Linked DNA regions of Homo sapiens. The protein of the gene in region 1 purifies or fractionates together with the protein of each later gene. This does not show direct contact. Each region holds a gene or a part of one and is shown in the gene's direction. Other genes may lie near its edges.

Region 1 (3,506 bases):
GGGTGCCAGCTTCCACTCTTAACACAGGAGGCCGCCAGAACAAGGGAGCAGAGGAGTCCCCTGTTGTGACATATGCCTGGAGAGGCTCACTCCTGCTGAGAACAGCGCTTAGTGAGCACAGCGGGAGCAGTGAGACCAAATAGCGGCCCAGACAAGCCACTGTGGTGGCCAGGCCAGGCCGAGGATAGAGGAGGATCAGTGGTTGGATTCCGTCGATAGATGCTGAATGTATTTTGGAGACAGAGCTGACAGGATTTGCTGGCAGATTGGTTGTGGGGCGTGAGTGTGGAGTTGAGGATGTCTCCTGGGCTTCTGATCTGAGCAACTGGCAGGACGGGGGTGCCGTTAACCAAGATGGGGACAAGGTGGAAAGATGAGAGTGGAGAGGCAAAGATCAGGAGTTTGCTTTGGGACACGTGAAGTTTGCAGTGCCCACAAGCCAAGGAGGCCAGCATCCATGATCTGGAGTTTGGAGGGCGGGTGGGGTTGGAGACGTGAACCTGGCATCACCAGCATGCAGGCTGTGCTGCAACACGAGACTTGCTGAGCTCAAGGCAGCGTGTCCAGATGCAGAGACAGAAAAGGACTCAAGAAACCAAGCGAGAAAAGTGTCTCAAGGAGGGGTGAGAGGTGACTGAAAATGGGACATGGATTTAGCTACCAGGAGGCTTCTGGGGCTCTTGGCAAGGACACCTTCCAGGGAGGGGTTAAACGGGAATGGGTGTGAGCAGAGGGTATAGAGAACAGGTTTCCGGGAGTTGTCAGGTTAAGGTGGATGTGTTGAGTGTGTCCACTGTGAAGCTGGGGGTGGCTGTCACAGGCAGACTCTTAGCCCCCGGCAGCGAGGGAGTGATGCTGCTCCGTGCTCTGTCCTTTCAGCACAGCGACATGGCAGGGGTGCATTCCTAAGATCCCTGCCCAAGTTTATCCTGGGCTGTGCCCAGGCCACCTGTGAGTTGTTCCCTCTCTGGGAAATGTCCCAGGCAGCAGCTGCAGCTGGAGAGTGGCCCGCTCCCAGGCCGGCACTCAGCTGGCGGCCCGTCTCATCAGGGCCTTTGTCCTGTTCTGCACGGCAGGCAGCAGCAATTCCCTGGCACCGCGTGGAGCTGTACAGGCTCGTGCTGTGCTGAGAGGCCTCCCCGTCCCCTGCCCCCGGCCCCTGTCCCCTGCCCCCTGCCCCCTTCCCCCGGTCCTTGTCTGCTGGCCCCTGCCCCCGGTCCCTGTCTGCTGGCCCCTGCCCCCGGCCCCTGCCCCCAGTCCCTGTCCGCTGCCCCCTGGCCCCTGCCCCTGTCTGCTGTCCCCTGGCCACTGTCCGCTGTCCCCTGGCCCCTGTCCGCTGTCCCCTGCCCCCTGGCCCCTGTCCACTGTCCCCTGCCCCCTGTCCGCTGTCCCCTGGCCCCTGCCCCCATCCCCGTCCCTTCCTCTCCTAGCCCCTCACCCCATCTCACTGTCCCCTCTGGCCTCTCCCAATTGTCTTCTCTCTGTCACAGGCTAATGACAAACTATGTGACCTTCATGGTGGGGGAGATTCTGCTCCTCATCCTGACCATCTGCTCCCTGGCTGCCATCTTTCCCCGGGTAAGAGGCACTTTTCTACTGAGCTCAGAAGCCTCTGGAAGTGAGTGGCACTCCCTGTAAAACTGGGCAGTGATGGAGTTATTCTTTCTGTCAAATCTGACAGGCAGACACTCCTCTGTTAGGACGGTCCAGGCACTTGCCCATCCATTCATTCACCATCAGCAGAGCACTCCCTCTGGCTGGGCCACCAGGCTGTGGCAGGCTGTGGTGGGCCACGGCTGGGCCGTGGTGGGCCTTGTTGGGCCGTGGCGCTGCAGCACGTATGAGTACGGCAGAGTCTGGGTAAACAAGAACCTGGGTAGAGAGGAAGTGGAGGGCCGGCTGGAAGGTGGGTTGGCCCCGATGGTGAAGGCCCTTAGAAGCCAGACTAAAGGGATTAAAACTTTCTCCTGTAAGGCACTGAGGTACCAAGCAGAGTTTTTTTTTTTTTTAATCAGAATGACAAAGGTAAAGCAGTGTTTAGGAACATAAATCTGACAGGTGGCTCGCCAGGTCACTTGGAGCCAGGATAGGCAGGAGTAGCTGGCCAGAGACGAGCAGCCCTGAAAACTGTTCCTGCCCTGGCCTCACCTCGTCACCACGTCTGCTGTGGAAAGGGCTGCGACCTGGAGGCTGTGCTGTTGAACAGGCACATCGAGGAGGTCCAACACAGCGTCAGAACTCCCACGCCCTCTTCTCAGCTCTGCCCCTTGGTCAGCTGTCAGGTGACTCCCAGGCAGAGTCCGTTTTGAGGCTCCTGGGACTGGAATACGGGACCAGCCTGAGTTGCTGTCAGTCACGTCGCAGGAGAAAGGACTGGCAAAGGCTCATGGCCCTTGAAATTCTGTTCCTTCTAGGCCTTTCCTAAGAAGCTTGTGGCCTTCTCAACTTGGATTGACCGGACCCGCTGGGCCAGGAACACCTGGGCCATGCTCGCCATCTTCATCCTGGTGATGGCAAATGTCGTGGACATGGTGAGCTCCTGCTGTCCTTGTTGAAGGGACGCCCCTGTTCTCAGTGGAGAAGGGCTTCTGTTTGGGTCACACAAGCAGTTTCTCAGTCCATCCCTCCACCGTCATGTAGCTTTGGAGTGGCTCTTAGGTTCCCAAACACATCATCCCCACCTAGTGGAAGGAGTCTTGTCCCTGTCATCCAGGGAGCCTCTGGGATGGACTTGTTTCCTTGAAGCTCCTCTCCCAGAGTCCGAGAGCACAGTTCCATGTGCCCAGGCCTGTGCTAGGTACCTTATGTATGTTGATTCATTTAATCTGTGAAAAAGTCCTGAGCAGTTGTACCAGTATCTGCAGTTTCATAGGGAGAAACTAACTCTCAAAAAGGGTAATTGGTTGGGCGCGGTAGCTCACGCCTGTAATCCCAGCACTTTGGGAGGCCAAGGTGGGCGGATCACGAGGTCAGGAGTTCGAAACCAGCCTGGCCAACATGGTGAAACCCCATCTGTACTAAAAATACAAAAATTAGCCAGGCATGGTGGTGCACACCTGTAATCCCAGCTACTTGGGAGGCTGAAGCAGGAGAATCGCTTGAACCCAGGAGGCGGAGGTTGCAGTGAGCCGAGATTGAGCCGCTGCACTCCAGCCTAGGCGACAGCAAGACTCCGTCTCAAAAAAAAAAAAAAAAGGTAATTCACTTGCTCTAGGTCACACAGCCAGGAAGTGACAGAGTCCAGAATGGAGGCAGTTCTAAGTCCCAGTCCTGTGTATTCTTCCTCCCTGAGGGGGCAGCCAAATGCTTTCTTGGGGAAAAGGGACAGGAGTTGGGAGCCCAGATCTATTGGTTTAGAACCACTGGGCACGTATTGAGCACTACATGCCTGGAGCTGTCATCAGTGTTCTCTTGTCAGTTGTCACGGCCTCCTCTAATTGTGGTAGTACCATATACACTATCTTCCTTTTTTTTCAAATATAATGTTATTGTTGTACTTTAACAAT
Region 2 (3,506 bases), on another chromosome or scaffold:
GTGTAGCTCCCAGAAGTAATTAACGCACTAAGCCTAAATGATGCAATGAAAGGTGCCTACACTTATACAGTGACACTACCATCCTCACCTACAATATTAAGTTCCCAGAGAAAAAAATTCGATCCCATAATATAAATTCTGTACTTACAAATTAAAATCTCGAAGGAATTAAAAATTTTTAATTATCTCCCTCTGCTTTTTTTTTTTTTTTTTTTTTTTTTTTGAGATGGAGTCTCACTCTGTCCACCAGACTGGAGTGCAGTGGCACAATCTCAGCTCGCTGCAACCTCCACCTCCAGGGTTCAAGTGATTCTCCCACCTCAGCCTCCCGAGTAGCTGGGATTACAGGCATGCACTACCATGCCCAGCTAATTTCCATAGTAGAGACAGGGTTTCGTCATGTTGGCCATGCTGGTCTCAAACTCCTGACCCCAAGTGATCCGCCCGCCTTAGCCTCCCAGAGTGCTAAGATTACAGGCATGAGCCATTGCGCCTGGCCTCCTTCTGCTCTATTTTAATCAAAAGGGTCCACCAGGATGCCTGGGTTCCCTCAGCAGCTGCAGCTTGGACCATCATCAGCCTGGGCAGACAGAGCAGTGCCAGGAACTCCCATGCTGGGTCAACCCTAGGCCTAGCCCAACCCTAGGCCTCATCCTGCTTCTCTAAAGCATAGTGAAACCTGATAGCATTAGTCTTCACAAAGCTGTGTGTCCCCATCACCATGTCCGCCTTAGACCTCATAAGAGACATAAGACATAAGAGACTTCATGCTATCTGGTGGAAAGACAAAGTAGGAGAAAAGACAGAAAACCTTCCCTGTTTCACTTCTTTAAGATGCTATTATCTAGAGGCCGTAACGTGAACACACAAATCTGAGATGAAACTCCAGTCCCCAGCTTTTCTTCTACTGGTCTTGAATCCCCATTCCCCATCTTCTGTCCCTCACCCACTGATGACTTTAACACCTGGCTTACTGCTCCTTTTGAGCCCCTGTTCCTGACTCTGCTTTTGGAGGCATCAGTCACCATGTGGATGATCCATCTATCCTCAATCTTTCTATTCCTCAGCTTCCTCAGCCACCTGATCCCATGGTCAAGTCACCATCTGCCCTGTATCTGCACTGCCCTTGGAATCTCAACAAGGCATCCGCCCTGTTTACTGCCTCCTTCCTCCCACCTCAGTATTCTCTTTTATTCCAGTCATTTTTGTCTTCATCAAGTCCTTAGAGTTATTGATGCCTCCACTTTCTCAACATCAGTCACACCGAACATGTCCTCACCTTCCTCCTTACTCTGTGTGTTTTTGAGTTCTGTTTTTGAGCGTTTGAGTTTTCTGATTTGAGTTTTTGTGGTATGTCATTATTACCTTTCCTTATTCCCTCATGCTTTCTTACTTTCATAGCAAACTCTCTAGTAAAACCCAGTTATATGCCTCTATCTGATATAGCAAACATCACTGGGCAAAAACACAAAACAGTGCCAAATGCTCTCACACTGAACTCATGACCACAAATCTCATAGAGGTAATTGGTGCCACCTAGCAATGCTATTGCTCTTTCTTTTCTTCCTGAAACCTCCAGCATCTGCTCTTGCCTGTCCCATCATACTCACACCTTAGCTTGTGACCTGGCCTCATTCTTCTCCAAGAAATCAGACAAGAACACTGTCATCCTCCCACCCCCAAACAACCAGCCTCTTCAAATCTGTACCAACTCTATTCTCTCTTGTTACAGTGGAAAAGGGTTTCTGCATCTCTCAATCCACCTGTCCACTGTGCTCTTGGCCCCATTCCGTCCTGCCTGCTCAGGGATGTTGCTGCTATAACCATCTTCTCTCCCACCTCCATCAGCAGTTCCCCTCTTTAACCACTACTCTCATCAGCCTATACATGTTACATTTCCTATCTTTTAAAAACAAAAAATCTGCTAATCTCACTTTCCCTTCCACCTACTATCCTATTTCTCTGCACCCCTTCCCAGCAAAACTCCTTTAAAGAGTTGGCTTTCGGCCGGGCGCGGTGGCTCACGCCTGTAATCCCAGCACTTTGGGAGGCCAAGGTGGGCGGATCACAAAGTCAGGAGATCGAGACCAGCCTGGCCAACATGGCAAAACCCCATCTCTACTAAAAATACAAAAATTAGCTGGGCGCGATGGTGCATGCCTGTGATCCCAGCTACTCGGGAGGCTGAGGCAGGAGAATCGTTTGAACCAGGGAGCTGAAGGTTGCAATGAGCCAAGATCGCGCCACTGCATTCCAGCCTGGTGGCAGAGTGAGACTCCATCTCAAAAAAAAAAAAAAAAGAGTTGGCTTTCTCCCTGCAAGTTCTCTGTTCGCTCTGTTCCTTCCAGGCTTGGCCCCACTGGGACTGCTTTAGTCAAGATCACCAGTGACTGTCCTCTTGCCAAATCCAAAGGTCATTTCTCTTTTCTGATTTTTTTTTTTTTGTCCTTACAGCAGCATTTGAAAGAGTCAGTACCTCCCTCCTCTTCCTCAGAACACTTACTTCCGTAGCATCACCCCACTCACTAACCTGGCAGCTCCTTTGTTATTTCTTTGTGACCTCCTCCTCTAAAACATTGGAGTATACTAGACTCGGGCGCTAGCCCACTCTGTTTTCTTTTGACACACTAGCCCTTCAGGATCTCAGCCAGTCCTATGGCTTTAAGTACAACCCATATGCCAGGGATCCTCAATCTGCGTCTCTAGGCCAGTCACCTGTCCCCCTTCCCAATGTGGGCTCCTGATTTCCTCCTTCCCCCGACACCAGTCCACCCCACTCTTAGCCATCTAAATAAATAGTACCACCTTCTGCCCAGTTGCTCATGTCTAAAATCCGGGAGTTACCTTCCTTCCTCCCCTCTCCTCACCCCTCACATCCAGTCTGCCACTGAGTCCTGATACAGGCAGAGCCTCCCCACTTTTCTCCAGCGTAACTGCTGTCATCTGAACAAGCCCTCGTCTCTCACTGCTTGCCCGTGGGACTGTGGGCATGACTCATATGCGCAGCCTCGTCTGCAGTGGCCTGGCAACTGGTCCTCCTGCTCTCATCCTAACCCACTTTTAGTTTTTCAAATGGCAGCTGCTGGTCCTTTTGAAAATATAAATCATTGTCACTCCTTGTCTTACAAATCCTGTTTGAGGCCAGGTGCGGCAGCTCACGCCTGTAATCCCAGCACTTTGGGAGGCCGAGGCGGGTGGATCACCTGAGGTCGGGAGTTCGAGACCAGCCTGACCAACATGGAGAAACCCCGTCTCTACTAAAAATACAAAATTAGCGGGCATGGTGATGCATGCCTGTAATCTCAGCTACTGGGGAGGCTGAGGCAGGAGAATCACTTGAACCCGGGAGCCGGAGGTTGCAGTGAGCCAAGATCGCGCCATTGCACTCCAGCGTGGGCAATAAGAGTGAAGCTCCATCTCAAAAAAAAAAAAAAAAAAAATCCTCTTTGGTCTTCCAGAGATCTTGAGAGAAAATCCGCCCATGTATACAAAATTTAGAGACTTTT

What was found. Proteins that work in one complex are often made in the same cells at the same time.
Region 2: the proteins of ADCY3 (region 1) and PTPRA fractionate together in Homo sapiens (co-fractionation; one large-scale study listed by BioGRID). This does not show direct contact.

What each region holds. Positions count from the first base shown.
Region 1 is NC_000002.12:24,829,734-24,833,239, reverse strand, and holds part of ADCY3 (adenylate cyclase type 3), read left to right. Parts: intron 1-879; exon of another isoform or gene 880-1,160; intron 1,161-1,490; coding exon 1,491-1,578; intron 1,579-2,414; coding exon 2,415-2,531; intron 2,532-3,506.
Region 2 is NC_000020.11:3,030,481-3,033,986, forward strand, and holds part of PTPRA (receptor-type tyrosine-protein phosphatase alpha isoform 1 precursor), read left to right. Parts: intron 1-3,506. UniProt on the Homo sapiens protein: Tyrosine protein phosphatase which is involved in integrin-mediated focal adhesion formation.